2 separate regions of the Homo sapiens genome follow, and region 1 is linked to region 2. Evidence: fine-mapped expression QTL. A gene starts in region 2. The other region holds a variant in brackets. All regions are shown on one strand. Distances are from middle to middle.

Region 1 (5,385 bases), 34 kb before region 2:
AAACTTCTTGTAGGTTAAAAAAACACAAGGAATTTACATTGAAATTAACAACACATACTTACTTTAAAAATTAAGTGTATATACATACATGTAATTGAACCTTGGCAGAGAGACCTATCTGTCCACCCAAAATACATTCTTCCCCCTCTATAGGGGAGGTCTGAGCTCTGACATACAATAAAGAAGGGAAAGTGTCCTTGAGGGTCATTGTCCAGACAAAAGGCTACATTTTCCAGCCTTTTTGCTGCAAATGTGAGCATGTGACTGCTTCTTGCCACAGAAGTGAGATAATATGTATCACTTCTGGGCTGGGAACATCTGCATTGAACTGAATAACAAGAAAAAAACTTTATTTTGCAAAGCTACTGAAATTTGAGGTTTATTTATTTCTTAAGCTGAGGGTCAGGAAACTTTTCTGTAAATAGCCAGATAGTAGATATTTTGGGCTTTGTAGGACACATACAGTCTCTGTCTCATATTCTTCTTTTTGTAAAAACTACTCTTGACTCACAAGTTACACAAAAACAGCTGCAGGTTTAACTAATTCAAGTTTTTAATACAATAAAAAACAACAAAAAACTAACACAATGAAAACAATGTAAATGGTGCATGAGATGTCACTACTATTAACTAGCAACCTATGAGGACTCAGGGAGAAGACCCTTAGGTCACCTTAGCCCACCGTTCCACCGTGAAAATAACTGCACTGTGGCTCTCCCATTGTGGTGCTTAAGTGCTCCCAAGTCAGTACTATTTAATTGGTTCTCATAAATACAGGAATGCCTCCAAAGTTAAAGTTGAAGCAGTACATGAAACTAATAGAAAAGTAAATTCCTACAGCCTTAATTGGAGTACCTCAGAGTGTGGCTGCTTTACTGCTTTCTCTCCCACTTTCTCAGCTTTGTCATCATACAGCATTTCTTATACTATTGCTATACCTAGTTCAGTGCTAGATCTGACCGGAGTCTTCCAACAATGCATCGACATCCACCAGCAGATCTTGAAGCTCTGCGTGGTAGGACTCCAAGATGGCGTCTACATTTCCTCGGCCCCCACCCTCACACTACTTGTCATGGTTGCCAGACTCCCTGTTGGTATGCAGGTATTGTCAGGCTTGGCACCTTCCATTCCACCCAGGCCCTTGTCTCAGTTGGCACAGAATCCAAGACCACACAAAACTTTTAGGAAAGTTATTGTCCAACAATAGAATGAATAGATAAATGGTAGATTATTCTGCAGCAACAACAATGGAAATTTGGAAGAATTGAAAATAGTATGAGAAAAAGCTTATAACAGCATATTACATAAAAACAGCAGAATTGCAGATTATATATTCAAAATGAATTTAATTGTGTAAAAACAAAGACTTGAAGGAAGTACACTAAAATATTAACAGTGGTATTCCTGGGTGGTAGATTATGAGTGATTTTTTTTTCTTTTTTCTTTTTTCTTTTTTTGCGACAGAGTCTCCCTTTGTTGCCAGGCAGGAGTGCAGTGGCGTGATCTTGGCTCACTGCAACCTCTGATTCCCTGGTTGAAGCAATTCTCTTGCCTCAGCCTCCCTAGTAGCTGGGATTACAGTCATGTGCCACCATGCCTGGCTAATTTTTCTATTTTTAGTAGAGAGGGGGTTTCACCATGTCGGCCAGGATGGTCTCGATCTCCTGACCTCATGATCCACCTGCCTTGGCCTCCCGAGGCTGGGATTACAGGCATGAGCCACCACACCCAGCATTATGAATGACTTTTAAAAAATATTATTTTCTATGTTTTTTGAAAATATGTACAAATGACTGGAGTTTTTTTTTAATGACTGAGAAAATAAAAAGTAGTTCTTCCTATAAAATCTTTGGAGAGCTCTGCTGTCCAGAGTGAGTTCCCAGCCCAACTCCTGTCCTCTGAGAGCTTAGCTGGGAGAGGAACATAAGTCACCCTCAAGCCTATGTTCAGAACAGGAACAGGACAGGGAAGAGGAGGATGAATGGGAATCCGACTTAACAATGAGGTTTGAACCAGAGGGAATGTGGAGACCCAGAGCAACCTTGGTTTGGTGCGATCCATTTCTTCCTACCTGCAAGTATTCAACTTGTTTCAGATCCAGTTTCTTATCTCAGCATATGCCCTGCATACTCTGCTTGTTCTCTATGCCCTCTCTTCACTCCTTAAGTCATGGCACTGGAAACAAAGGAAGCAAGAGAGACTTTCAGACTAAAGCTGTGTGCTCATCTCTTGTTCTCACCCTTCCACATTGAGGGCCAGGGCAGAAGCCTGTCTGCACTCTGTTCCTGCACCCCCACACCCACAGAACAGCCCCTTCATGATGCATCTCATCTTTCTTGAGGGACCACTGTGGGGGCTATTCTGTGTCTATCCCCACATAGCTCATCGTTTCACTTGTTTGTGCACATGTATGCACATATATGCAAGTGCTCCTGAAAACATTTATTGGAACACATGCTTAGGCATAGCCTTCATTTATTCTGCCAGTTAACAAATTTCCCCCCTGCTTTGTGTAATTGCTGCACTTGG[G/A]GACAAGTGTGCTGGCTAAGGGAACAGTAAGTGCAAAGGCCTGGAGTCAAGAACAGGTTTGATTCTTGCCCTCCAGTTGTTCCCATTGTAGTGAAAGAGACAGATCAGTAAATAGGTAAATGCAATGCTGTATGATGGACATTTATCACTTAGCATTTATAATTAACATTGACATTTAAAAATGTATGTTATTTATCGTCTTGGTCCCCGATAGAAAATAAGCTCCACGAGGGCAAAGGTTTTTGCATTTTTTTTTGTTCATTCAGTGTCTCTAGAACCTCAAAGAGCTACAGGCACATAGTAGATACCCAATGTTGTTTGAATGGAAGAAAAAACCCCACATTTATCCCTCTGCTCCCATTTTCCCTCCCCAGAGGCAACTGGTGTTATTAGGCCCTGGGAGGAGTGTACTATTTCAACAGACCACCATGCTCTCCACCAAACTTTGACTTTGGTACTGCAGGTGAGTCTCTGAGTATCCCACAATTTGGGGGATTCTACTTGCCAGGAGGTGTAGGGTGCTGTCCACCAGCTGTAATGTTGGCTGCAATTGGCTCTGGTCCTCTGAGTCTCATAAGGACCTGGGTACCCTTTTTGACTGTGGTGCAAAGGAGGAATCAGGGACTGGCCAAACTCTGGAGACTGCATTCAGGCTTTGGTGGGGACTTGGCATTTAGGAAAATACAAGCCTGCTGCCACGTATCGTGAGGCCCTCTCCTTCAGCTCATCGCCTAAGCTTGATAGGCAGGGAACCTGGCAGGAGATAGTCTCTGTATGTGAATGTGTAAAACCTGAGCTGCATGGAGCCCTCAGTGCCACAAATGTCAGGAGCCTTTGCTTTTGGAGTGGACTTGATGTATGGCCCTTGAGCAGGACCCTGACGAAAGACCAAATTGCAGGGTCAGGGACCTGGTTTCCATCTCAGAAGAAATATCTTTTTCAGAAGTACTCAAGTATCCACAGATTATCTGAGGAGTCTAATTGAATTTTCCTTTATTCCCTTTATAGATAAATAAGGCCTGAATTTTATACTTGGAGCAATTTACAATTTAAAATTTACAAGTATTAAGGAAATAAATTAATAATTACTAAACACCCATTATCCTTGATGGATTAATTATAAACTATGGTCCAAAAAGTTTAAAAGTGCCCAAGACCACACAGTTATTAAGACCTCAAAGAGCTACAGACACATAGTAGTTGCTCAATGTTGTTTGAATGGATGAAAAAACCCCCACATTTATTTATCCCTCTGCTCCCATTTTCCCTCCCCAGAGGCAACCAGTGTTGTTAGGCCCTGGGAGGAGTGTGTTATTTAAACAGACCACCATGCTTTCCACCAAACTTTGACTTTGGGACTGCAGATGAGTCTCTGAGTATCCCACAATTTGAGAGATTCTACTTGCCAGGAGGTATAGGCCACTTAATTAGTTTTAGAAACTTGGATGCCTCCAAGTTTCCATTTATGTTTCATTTTGTTTCTGTAAATCCACTTGGTCAAATTACTACATTTTTGGATTCTGAGTATCTTCCATAAAGCCTAACACATCATAGACTCAACAAATCTTTTTTAATAAACAGAAGAGGCCGGGCACAGTGGCTCACGCCTGTAATTGCAGCACTTTGGGAGGCTGAGGTGGGCAGATCACCTGAGGTCAGCAGTTCAAGACCAGCCTGGCCAACATGGCGAAATCCCATCTCTACTAAAAAAATACAAAAATTAGCCAGGCGTGGTGGTGTGCGTCTGTATTCCCAGCAACTTGGGAGGCTGAGGCAGGAGAATTGCTTGAACCTGGGAGACAGAGGTTGCAGTGTGTCAAGATTGTGCCACTGCACTCCAACCCGGATGACAGAGTGAGGCTCCATCTCAAAAAATAGACAAAAATAAAAATAGAAGAAAAAACCTTCATTAGTCACAAAGACTTTTTTTCTTAAATTTCCAACTTTTAAGTTCAGGAGTACATGTATAGGATGTGCAGGTTTGTTACATAGGTAAACGTGTGTCACGGTGGTTTGCTGCACAGATCATCTCATCACGTAGGTATTTAAACCCAACATCCACTAGCTATTCTTCCTGATCCTCTCCCTCCTCCAACCCCATGTCCTCCGACAGACCCCAGTGTGTGTTGTTCTCCCCATGTGTCCGTGTGTTCTCATCATTTAGCTCCCACTTATAAGTGAGAACATGTGGTATTTGGTTTTCTGTTCCTGTGTTAGTTTGCTAAGGATAATGGCTTCTAGCTCCATCCATGTCCCTGCAAAGGACATGATCTCGTTCCTTTTTATGGCTAGATAGTATTCCATGGTGTATATGTACCACATATTCTTTATCCAGTCTATCATTGATGGGCATTTAGGTTGAGACCATGTCTTTGCTATTGTGAATAGTGCTGCAATGAACATATATGTGCATGTGACTTTATAATAGAACGATTTCTATTCCTTTGGGTATATACCCAGTAATGAGATTGCTGGGTTGAATGTTTTTGTTTCTAGGTCTTTTAGGAATAGCCACACTGTCTTCCACAATTGTTAAACTAATTTACACCCCCACCAACAGTGTAAAAGTGTTCCTTTTCCTCCACAACCTTGCCGGTATCTGTTGTCTTTTGACTTCTTGATAATAGCCATTCTGGGCCAGGAGCAGTGGCTCACACCTGTAATCCCAACATTTTGGGAGGCCAAGATGAGCAGATCACACGAGGTCAGGAGTTGGAGACCAGCCTGGCCAGCATGGAAGAACCCCGTCTCTACTAAAAATACAAAAATCAGCTGAGCGTGGTAGTGCACGTCTGTAATCCCAGCTACTTGGGTTGCTGAGGCACGAGAATTGCTTGAATCTGGGAGGTGGAGGTT
Region 2 (5,385 bases):
AAAAAACAGAGCAATTGTTGGGTTTATGAAGATAAGCTAGTTTCTACTGAGGAAAGATTCCAGTGGCATTCCTGGGGGCTCAGTCTTGGTACTAGCAGGGTACTGGTAGTATGGAATTTGAAAGTAATCCATAAAATGAGAAAAATCTTGGGTTTGACCAACCAGTCCCCACAGAGGTTCAGGTGAGTAGAAGTCATCTTTTGAAAACACTTAATAAAACATCATGCAGTTTTGGATCCTGTTTCCTTAGACACTGCCACCAAATACATAAAGGAAATTTCTCAGAGGAAAGAAACATATGACATGTTCATAGGAGCAGCAAACCATTGGTTTGCAGGTAGGCTTGGCTTTTCCAAGGTGTTCTAACCTTTATGCTCTTCTAATGGTTCTCCAGATTACTATGACTTGTGTTAACAAGATAATGACAACATTGGATACCTCTTTAAATCAGCAAACTGCAGTTCTTAATCATTATCACCTCCTGAACAAAAACCATGACCAACGGTACTCAAATGCTTTTGAGCTGCCTGTAAGGGAGGAGACCACCCCTCATATTGTCTTATGCCCAATTTCTGCCTCCAAATAAAGAAGAAGTAAAAACTAAAAGGCAGAAACGAAATCCACAAGCAGACAGCCCGGTGCCACACCCTGGGCCTGGTAGTTAAAGATCGATGCCTGACCTAATCAGTTATGTTATCTATAGATTACAGATATCGTATAGGAAAGCACTGTGAAAATCCCTGTCCTGTTTTGTTCCGATCTAATTACCAGTGCATGCAACCCCCAGTCATGTACCCCTGGCTTGCTCAATCGATCACAACCCTCTCAAGTGGACCCCCTTAGAGTTGTGAGCCCTTAAAAGGGGCAGGAATTGCTCACTCAGGGAGCTCAGCTCTTGAGACAGGAGTCTTGCCAATGCTCCCGGCCGAATAAACTGCTTCCTTCTTTAACTCGGTGTCTGAGGGGTTTTGTCTGCATCTTGTCCTGCTACACCTATATTGCCTGAACTTTGATTTGGGTCAAATTGATTTGGTTGGCAGAGGCTCCTGTTAGAGAGTACACCTCAGGCTTTTGGAATTTTTGGTGTTGTCCTTCTGATAGTCATCATAGTAGCTCCCCTGGTGTACCATATCCTCTCAAGTCTTAAATATTTGTATGCAGCCATCCACTGAGTGTTGAGTGGTCTCACTTTGACTTGATCATCAAGAACATAAAGAATTATTCAACTGGTGTGATGTCATGACTTGTGAATTTCATGCTGAGACCAAATAAGTTTGTTTATGATGGTGACAGAGAGTGGTATCAATGCCCCAGGTTTTGAGAGGTGGCATTGTTAAACTAAATTTGGGGGGATTGTTAAACTAAATTTGACCTGAGAATGCCTCCATACCTGAGTCCTTACTAATGAAATGCAATGTAACTTAGTACTCACACTAACTGAAAACCTGGCTTAGGCATATACTTTTGTCACAAATGAGTCACAGCCAATCACAGCAGCTGAGCTTCAGTCAGTCACAGGCAGCCAACTCAAAACACCATGTTCACATAAAGCAAATGCTGAATAAGGCAAACACCAGCTGTAATCAATGGAGCTCTGTACCTCACTTCCATCTTCTGTTCATAAATGCTATCTGACCACATTGCAGGCCAAAGTTTTTCTGAACTTGTTCTAGTTTTGAGGGCTGCCCAATTCGTGAATTGTTCTTTGTTCAATTAGACCCTGTTAAATTTAATTTGTCTGAAGTTTTCCTTTTAGCAACTGAAGCATGCAGCAGGTCTGACATCATTAGGCAATTGCAATTCTCTTTCCTGCAGAGCTAAGACTCTGCCTCCTGCCTGATTCTCAAAGCAGAGCTCCAGGGAGCAGCAACACTAATTGTACAGGGCTGGCACACTAGAGAAAACCGATTTGCTACCCCAGCTTTAGGGCTTTTTCTAACTTCCCTCCAAAAGGAAATATACTAGTGCCCTGCTCACTCCCTGAGGTACTGTCTTCGCTAAGGTATGATGCTTGTTCATGGATTAATGTGTTTTCCCTCCAGGTATATGTTTCTATTTAAAATGCAGAGAGTGTTTTAATGTGGAGGAATGACCCTAATGATAGAAGTTTTAATAAGTCAAATGAGCGGAAAGGCAAGACAATATAACAAAAAGAGCACCAGTTTTGGCATAGCAGGCACTCAATAAATGTAAGTTCCACTTCTTTCCTTGTGCTGAGTGTCTCCTAATTACCTAGCACTATGGTAAATGCCCAAGAAACTCTAAGATATAAACTTTTGGTTTAAGAAGGCTTTATTTGTACTGATGAGATGATATGAGAAAATACTTTCTTTTTCTCTAAATACTATTACATTGTAGGCAGCAGACTGGCCAATACAATTAATTAAACTTTAGAAAGAAAAGATAAAGCCAGTCATCTGCTATGTAGTCTATGCAGTCCCAAAACAGCAGCTGAGTTTTTTTCACGGAACTCTTCTGGGTATTGGAAGGCAGACTAAATACTTTACTTGCTGCCCAGCAACACGAAGATGGAAAACACATCTTTTGATTAATTAAAAGCAAAAGGTTGGAACTACTTACCTTTCCATTCTTTAATTAACAAAGCCCACAGGCCACATGAGGAAGTAATAACACTCATTATGTTGTGATGAAGGACTGTGATGATGAGTTAAGTCAGATGGGACTCCAGGCACGATTCCCTTCAAGGCTTCCCCAAGACGTGCCCCGAATGTAGACAGATCCTTACTTGTTGAAGAACTGTATCTCACCAGTGCTGGCATATGCTTCTTCAGAGAGTGCATTCCCTTTTGCAAGGGAAAGAAAAGTCCTTAAAACAAAAGGTTATATTTTAATTAAGCCTAGGCATCCTTTCTGCAATTTCCTTTGTTGAAAGAATACCTCCTTTGATTTGTATCTGTTGGTGTTAGTCTTTGGAATAAAAAGAGATTGATCCCTTCCAGGCAGAACTGTCCCAACTGAATGATCAAAAGCCTTGCTAGCTGACATACAAACCAACAAATTATTTTCTTTTTCTCCCTTAAATCTCCCAGGAAGCACCTTTTGAAAGATAGTCTTCATTCCCCAGGCTTTGCTCACCATCCTTCATGCCAGTGGGTGGTCTCAAGGAATTTGAGGAAATGGCAAACACTCATTCTACCTGCAGGTGGAAGCCTGACCTCCTGCCTTTCAACTTCCTCCAGAATCCTTGGAGGGTTTTTTCTTTTCTTGTCACCAAGGCACCGCTGAAATCTGTTAGTCAAATAGCTTTCTACCCATGAGGAAAGTGAGCTTTGATATGTATTTGCTTCTCATTCAGCTATAGCAGCACCAGTTAAGATGCTGCCACCACATGAATGTAAACGAAAAATAAAACAGCAGGCTCAGTTTTCATTCTAAAGTCCACTCTCTGATGGGAATAAGAAATAACTCAATAGCATTAGTATGGAACATTGGGTGTCAGGATTTTTGCCTTCATTTCCCATCTTTTTTTTGGAAATTAAACTCAGTACCTCTATTATCTTTAAGAATCAGGGATAGTGATGATATTTTTCCCCCAAGAAAGAAAATAAGGGCCTATAAAAATGCTCTTTTTAATGCTCTCAAGGGGAAATGCTGAATTGAGAAGCAATTGGGTTTTCTAGAAGTCCAACAAACGTACTTTTTAAAGTGGTTCTCTGATGGAATACCTATAGAAAAACCTTGCTTCTTCATGTGAAGGTTTGCATTCACCAAGTCTGATTGTGTAATAGAGGTTACCCTTTTTAAATTAAATGAATTCTAAACAAAGTTTTACTTACATTTCCATTTTTGCTTTTTAAGAATGGAGTGATTGAGTCTTTTTAGGAAATGTATACACTTTGTGGCTAACTTTGCATGCCACATTGCAGCATGCTGTAAGTTTTATAGCTCTTGAAATACCATGTTAGCAGTAGGAATGCTGATGCTTCTATGATTACAGTGGTCCAACTGCAATGCTATAATCTCTGTCACTGAAAAATCTCATGCTGCTAAAACCTTGAAGACGATCTGAATTGTAGATGGTTTTAAAACTAGCTGTAGGCAATCCCATTACTGGGCATATACCCAAAGGAATATAAATCATTCTATTATAGAGATACATGCACACATATGTTCATTGCAGCATTATTCACAATAGCAAAGACATGGAATCAACCCAAATGCCCATCAATGATAGACTGGATAAAGAAAATGGGGTACATATACACCATGGAATACTAAGCAGGCATAAAAGGAATGAGATCATGTTGTTTGCAGGGACATGGATGGAGCTGGAAGCCACTATCCTCAGCAAACTCACAAAGGAACAGAAAACCAAATACTATGTGTTGTCATTTATAAGTGGGAGCTGAACAATGAGAACACATGGACACATGGGGGAAACAACATACACTGGGGCCTGTCAGGGGAGGGGTGTGTGGGGAGGGAAAGCCTTGAGAAGAATAGCTAATACATATTGGGCTTAATACCTGGGTGATGGTAAGGGAGAAAACCACCCCTCATATTGTCTTATGCCCAGTTTCTGCCTCCAAAGAAATAAGAAGTAAAAACTAAAAGGCAGAAATGGAATCCACAGGCAGACAGCCCAGCACTGCGCCCTGGGCCTGGTAGTCAAAAATCAACCCCTGACCTAACTGCTTGTGTTATCTATAGATTTCAGACATTGTATGGAAAAGCATCATGAAAATCCCTGTCCTGTTCTGTTCCTTTCTGATTACTGGTGCATACAGCCCCCAGTCACGTACTCCCTGCTTGCTCAATCGATCACGACCCTCTCATGCAGACCCTCTTAGAGTTGTAAGCCCTTAAAAGGGACAGGAATTGCTCACTCAGGGAGCTCGGTTTTTGAGACGTGAGTCCACCGATTCTCCCAGCTGAATAAAGCCCTTCCTTCTTTAACTCGGTGTCTGAGGGGTTTTGTCTGCGGCTCATCCTGCTACAATGGGATGATCTGTGCAGTGAATTGCTGTGGCACACATTTACCTATGTAACAAACCTGCATATCCTGCCTATGTGCCCTGGAACTGAAAATAAAAGTCGATTAAAAAAAAAAAACTAGCTATAGGAAACCATCCCAAATTCAATGGTGTCAATGCCTGTTTTCCTCAACTTGGTTTAGCTGCAGGTATGGAAACCTTCCAGATATACTTTCTGCTTCTTTTAGATCTTGAGACACTCTGGTAGGATGTGAGGAGCACTATCTCAGGCAAGAGGCAGGTGGGATCTGAAACTTGAAATCCCTCTTTAAATCTAGTATCTTTCGTGCGTAATGTGAGCCTGGGCTGACGCGCCCCAATACAAGTCACCACTAAGTCTTTCCTGGTTTATTGGTATTACCTTCTATTAAATCTTCCCAAATTTACTCCG

What was found. PIP is the estimated chance that this variant, and not a neighbour inherited with it, causes the effect.
Region 1: its variant is the best candidate, but not a certain one, in a credible set for the expression of LINC02231 in nasal epithelium (TOPMed, PIP 0.55).

The regions. Positions count from the first base shown.
Region 1 is chr12:64,955,683-64,961,067 of GRCh38, forward strand. The region is part of intron 2 of LINC02389 (long intergenic non-protein coding RNA 2389); the gene reads left to right. LINC02231 (long intergenic non-protein coding RNA 2231) reads right to left here. Exons shown (of 4, transcript NR_146276.1): 3 at 2,072-2,175. Among named protein-coding and RNA genes, the nearest start is that of LINC02231, 34 kb to the right of the region's middle. The variant G/A (reference allele first, on the strand shown) is at 2,530.
Region 2 is chr12:64,989,697-64,995,081 of GRCh38, forward strand. LINC02231 (long intergenic non-protein coding RNA 2231) reads right to left here and starts at 2,595. Exons shown (of 4, transcript NR_146276.1): 1 at 2,581-2,595. It overlaps LOC107984522 (a long non-coding RNA gene), which reads left to right. Exons shown (of 2, transcript XR_001749177.2): 2 at 1-950. RefSeq lists an enhancer at 2,932-3,458.